Linked DNA regions of Homo sapiens: region 2 is linked to region 1. A link means that fine-mapping ties the variant in region 1 to the expression of a gene that starts in the linked region. Tissue or cell type: whole blood. Region 1 holds a variant in brackets; the other region holds the start of a gene. All regions are shown on one strand. Distances are from middle to middle.

Region 1 (2,683 bases):
TCCGGGTAGCGCAGGGAAGGGCAAGGCGGTGTGGGGCCAGCCCTGTGGGATTTAGCTCAGCCTCACTTTCCCTGCCGCCTTGCAGAGGTCTGGCTGTCCTTCGAGTCCCCGTTGATCTCTGGAATTCAGGCATTAGCTCCCAGAGCCCTTTAACATTCATTATTCTACTCTATGAGCTAGGCATGATGGGGGCCGTCATGCCCCTTGAACAGATGGGAAAACCGAGGCTTGGATCACAGAGCTGGTGGGACACAGAGCCAGTGACTGACATAGAAGAGCAGTGGGGTAGAATTACAGTTCCATCTGGTGCCTTTTCTCTGAGCAAAGCTGTATCCATCACCACCAACAGAAAGTCCCAGGGAAGCGAAACCCCAGGGCAGTGTGGTGTGATTCATGCCCACCCATCTTTGTGGCCTTGAAGGCAAGAAACAGAAATCAGACAAAAAAAAAAAAAATAGAACTTTGCTGGCTCGCCCAGAAGTTTGCCATGTGTTTTTTTTTGAGCCATGATTCCCTTCCTCCCTATTAGAGGCAGTCACAGTCCTGATTCAGATGGGGGTTACTTCTTGGCTTTTCCTTAGAAATTTACCACCTATGAGATCCCCAAACAATTCAGTTTCATTTTACTCATCTGTGAATCTTATATAAATTGAACCATGCATACTGTGTGTATTCTCCAGTGCCTTGCTTCTTTCATGCAACATTTATGGGTATAAGATTCACTGATGCATTTCTGTGTAGATACTTTTTTTCATTTCCATTGTTGTGTTGCTACATTATTATTATTATTTATTTTACTTTAAGTTCTGGGATACCAGTGTAGAACCTGCAGGTTTGTTACATAGGTATATATGTGCCGTGGTGGTTTGCTGTACCTATCAACCCATCATCTAGGTTTTAAGCCCTGCATGCATTAGGTATTTGTCTTAATGCTCTCCTTCCCCCTGGCCCCCACCCCTGACAGGCCCCAGCGTGTGATGTTCCCCTCCCTGTGTCCATGTGTTCTCACTGTTCAACTCCCACTTATGAGTGAGAACATGCTGTGTTTGGTTTTCTGTTGCT[T/G]CATTATTTAAATACATCACCATTTGTCATTTTTTGTTTTGTCTTTTGATGCACACTTGGGTTGTTCCTAGGGTGGCCATCATGATCAATGCCACTGATGATATTCTTACACATTTATCCAAGTCCATGTACTTATCTGAGGTGAAATTGCTGGGTCTCAGAGTATAGATAGCTTCAACTGTGCTAGATTACGCCAAATATTTTCCACAGTGGCTGTGCCATTTTGTATTCCCACCAGCAGTATATGAGAATTCCAGGTGCTCCACCTTCTTACCTGCACTTGATATGGTCATTATTATAATTATTTTAAAGATGGGGTCTTGCTCTATCACCCAGGCTGGAGTGCAATGGTACCATCATAGCTGACTGCAACCTAGAACTCCTGGGCTCAAATGATCCTCCCACCTCAGCCTCCTGAGTGGCTAAGACTACAGTTACGTCACCATGCTTGGCTAATAAATTTTTTTTGTTTCTGGAGGGATAGACCATCATGGCCACTATGTTGCCCAGGCTGGTCTTGAACTCCTGGCCCCAAGCAATCCTCCTGCCTTGGGCTCCCAAAGTACTGAGATTACCAATGTGAGCCACTGTGTCTGGTTTGGTCAGTGTTTTTCAGTGTACCACTGCATTAATGTGCAGTGGTCTCTCATCAAGGTTTTAAGTTGCATTTCCCTAAGGACTAATGATGTTGAGCATCTTTTCATGGGCTTATTTGCCATCCTTATACCTTCTCCAATGAAGTGTCTGTTCAAGGTCATTGCTCATTATTGACTTGATTATTTTTAATGGTTTGTAGGTGTTCTTTATGTATTCATTTGGGTTTATGTGCTTCTCAATATCCTTTTCCATCCTGCAGTTTGCATTTTGTACTCTCTTAATGGAGTTTTGTGACGAATAGAAGTTGTCAACTTTAAAGAACCATATTAGTCCTTTGATATGGTTGAATTTCAACTTTCCTAATTGCAACATGAAATTTAATGAAGTCCTCCTAGTGCCAAAACATTCCGCCTTGAGCCAGTGTCATCCTTGGAGGGCATGAAGGTTTCTCCTGTATTTGCTTCTGCAACAAGCTCATAGGCTTGTGAACCTCAAGAGGAGTTCAGATGAGCCAAACACTTAGAACAACACTGTTCCGAGCTGTACAAGTGCTGGCAGTTCTTACTATTCTAAAACCGTTGCTGCTTGTCTTTTTCATTGGAGGCTCTATAATGTCCCTGTTTACCTATTGACCTTGCTTATTGACATGGCCCTGCAATTCCACCTCTCTGCAGTGCCGTCACTGTCATTAAGAACCTCCACATCTGCAAAGGTCTGTCTCTGGGCAGAGCTCACGAGGAGTGCCATGAGTGGTGTGCCTCTGGCCTGCTAGCTGGGGCACCCCGTAAGTGCAGGGGCCATAGGTCGGTCATCTCCGCCTCCCCCTGCCCAGCAGAGGGCCTGGTGGTGTGGCTCCCTGCATACAGTGAGGCTGGAATGCCCTCTCCTCCCTGGGTTGTGTCCCGTAACTTTCCAGTTTTCTCGCCTACTCTCTGCCCAGGCCTGGAATCTGCAAGACACCAGGGTGGACTCTAAGCCTTTCTCTGCAGCCCTGTGAGCCTCTCATGCTGCAGAAGGCAACCAC
Region 2 (2,683 bases), 60 kb after region 1:
GTCACTTTCCACTGGGGGAAATTTGTGTCATGATTAAAAACACACACACACACACACACACACACACACACACCCCTCCTCCTTTCTCAGTGTTAATCACCTTCTCCTATAATTAGCACTTAAAATGTCAAAGGAGAAGAAATTAATTAACAGGAGTATCCAGTGCAGCAAGGCTCTAGGACTGATTATAAAAAGCACTTCCTTAAATATTTTGAGTGCTTTTGGGAATCAGAAGCCTCCCTTCTAATTGAAAGATCCTTAACTACACCCTAAGTCCTGGCTGGTGGCCAGGGGTGCGGGGCTGAGTGAGGCGGCGTGTGGAAATCCCTTCTTCACCATCCTTGGGAAAATTCCCTCCAAACTGGGATAGGTGGCAACAGAGGTTCGGAAACAGCAAGCGTCCCAGGCTGAATCTGCGGAGGAGGAAGAGATGAACCTTTCCTGAGCTGGTACTGCGTGCCAGGAACTTTAGCTCGGTATTTTGCCACAATCCTGTAAGACAACCGATACTATGATCTCCATTTTACAGATGAGGACATTGAGGCTCAGCGTGGTTGTGACTTCCTCAGGTCACGCAGCCACTGAATGAAAGCGCCAAAGATTCAAACTGAGGTCTGATTCTAAAGCTTTGCTCTCTCACGGCATCCTGGAATCCTATTTCAACCTTCATCTGGACTCTTAACCCAGCCCAAACCTAAGCGTCTACAGTTTTGACAGCTGAGGCGGGAGCACGGGAGGCGGAGCTGGTGGCAGCGCAGCGCCCCGCCCCGGCTCCAGCATCAGCCAATGGTGACGCGGCACCCACAGCCTTTCGCCCAATCAGCTTGAGCTTCCCGCCTCCATCCGCCGCTCTTCTCTGCCCCGCCCCTTCGCTTTCCCTTTGGTTCCACCGAGCTTGACAGAGCGGAAAGTCCCTTCGGCCGGCGCCGGGCTGGCAGCCATTGGAGGAAGGTCTGTCACAGGGAGGCCCAATCACGGCCCGCTCAGGAGCGCAGCTCGGCCTACGATTGGCTAGCGCGGCGGCTGCCCCCTCCGCCCCCGCTCCCTCCCTCTTCCCTGTGCGGTTCGGAGGCGGGGCAGGTGGGGGCGGGCCCAGGTAGCAGGTTTGGCTGCGCGGGGGCCGCGCGTCGGAGGTAAATACTAGGGCGGTGGGTGTGGGGAGCCGGGGCCGGCCCGGGACGCGGGCTGGGGAGCCGGGGCGAGGGGCGACGCCCCGCCGCCCGAGGTTAGTGAATGAGCGGGCGGCTGGCGGCCGGCGGGCGGCCGGATCCCCTCGGCGCAGCCGCCTGGCCTCAGGGCGTCCGGAGCCGCCGCGGCGACCATCGGGCCCTCGGCGCCGGCCCGTTAGTTGCCCGGGCCCGAGCCGGCCGGGCCCGCGGGTTGCCGAGCCCGCTGACGTCAGCCCGGGTTTCCCCCCCCCACCGGGGCTTCCCCATCCCCCGAGGCTTCCCGGGAGGGCTGCGAGTCCGGGGAGCGTGCGGGGTCGCCACCATCGGGACCCCCAGAGGAGAGAGGACTTGGGGCGGGAGCCGCGCGGGACGCTGTCCCCCTCCCGCCCCCCACCCCATTTACAGATTGGGAGACTGAGGCACAGGCCGCTGGCGGGCCCCGACGGCCACGGTTGGCCTCAGGAGCCCGGGGCTGTGATTCCTACCGACCGCGCCGCGGGGCGTACGTACCGATCGATTTTGCGGGTGTTGGTGGCTCCCGTCCAGGAATGGCAGTCGGGGTTCTGGCCTTGTTAATGGCGTGTTCTGCTTTTTCTTTCAGTTTCCCCCTTTCTAGGGTGAGGATGGTTCTACACAGCCACCCGGAGTTCCTTAGTTGAAAGGTGCGCCCTGCTGTGACAGGTATTCTTTCTTTATGTTTTTCTTTCATGTTAACAATCGAGGGGGGTGGGGGGCGAATGGGGGGCGGGGGCGAAGTCATGAAATCTTCAGGAGATGGTGTTGAGTTTGGTACTCAGCTGGGTCAGCTGCCGGTTATTCATGTACTTGGCATCGTTTCTCTTCCACCCCTTGGCATTTGAATGTTTTAGGATAGTTGTCATCTTCCAGCCACCAAGCCTGTGGCCTTGCAGTCTCCCAGCCCCCATCATCCCTGCCACCTTCTTCTCCTCAATTTTTCCTGGAAAGTTTTATCCTTAGCTCAGCTAAGGAGCATGCCTACCTTGCTTTTGAATTCGGGCTAATTAGGGATCTTAATAAGATTGTTCATTTTGCAATCATTGGCTCTCAGAGAAGCACCCAGGCCTTGAGAGGGTGTTCGTTTGATTGTTGGCTTTCTACACACCCCCTCACGCCCCAAGTAGACTGAATGGCCTTAAGAATTTAGCCTCCCATTCCCCACTGAGCAGTAGGTGGATTTGAACTAGAACAGTATTAGGAGAAAATGATTTGCTGGAAATTCTTATTGAAGTAACACCCAGAACATTCTCTAATATTCTGCTGCAAAATTGTATAGTATTCTTGCAAATAAACCTTCCTCTGGGTGGTAACTTTTGTGAGAAGCAGATAAGGCTTGTTATATAAAGCACAACTAACATTAAGCAGCAATGATTTTTATAGTCTGGCACACCTAAACTGTGGTTTTGTTTGATTTAAGGAAGTCTCCAACACAGGGAGAGAGAAAGGAATAGTTATGTTGTTTATCAAACTATTAGTATTTTGTTCCTGATTTTCAC

The links. PIP is the estimated chance that this variant, and not a neighbour inherited with it, causes the effect.
Region 2: it holds the start of CYLD, and the variant in region 1 is fine-mapped to the expression of CYLD in whole blood (TOPMed, PIP 0.95).

The regions. Positions count from the first base shown.
Region 1 is chr16:50,681,425-50,684,107 of GRCh38, forward strand. No RefSeq gene overlaps it. Among named protein-coding and RNA genes, the nearest start is that of SNX20, 1.5 kb to the left of the region's middle. RefSeq lists an enhancer at 2,592-2,683. The variant T/G (reference allele first, on the strand shown) is at 1,063.
Region 2 is chr16:50,740,992-50,743,674 of GRCh38, forward strand. CYLD (CYLD lysine 63 deubiquitinase) reads left to right here and starts at 1,095. Exons shown (of 19, transcript NM_001378743.1): 1 at 1,095-1,133; 2 at 1,771-1,850. CYLD-AS1 (CYLD antisense RNA 1) reads right to left here and starts at 1,756. Exons shown (of 7, transcript NR_184279.1): 1 at 1,680-1,756; 2 at 337-413. MIR3181 (microRNA 3181) reads left to right here and starts at 1,314; the gene lies at 1,314-1,386. RefSeq lists a silencer at 910-1,509 and an enhancer at 1,750-1,849.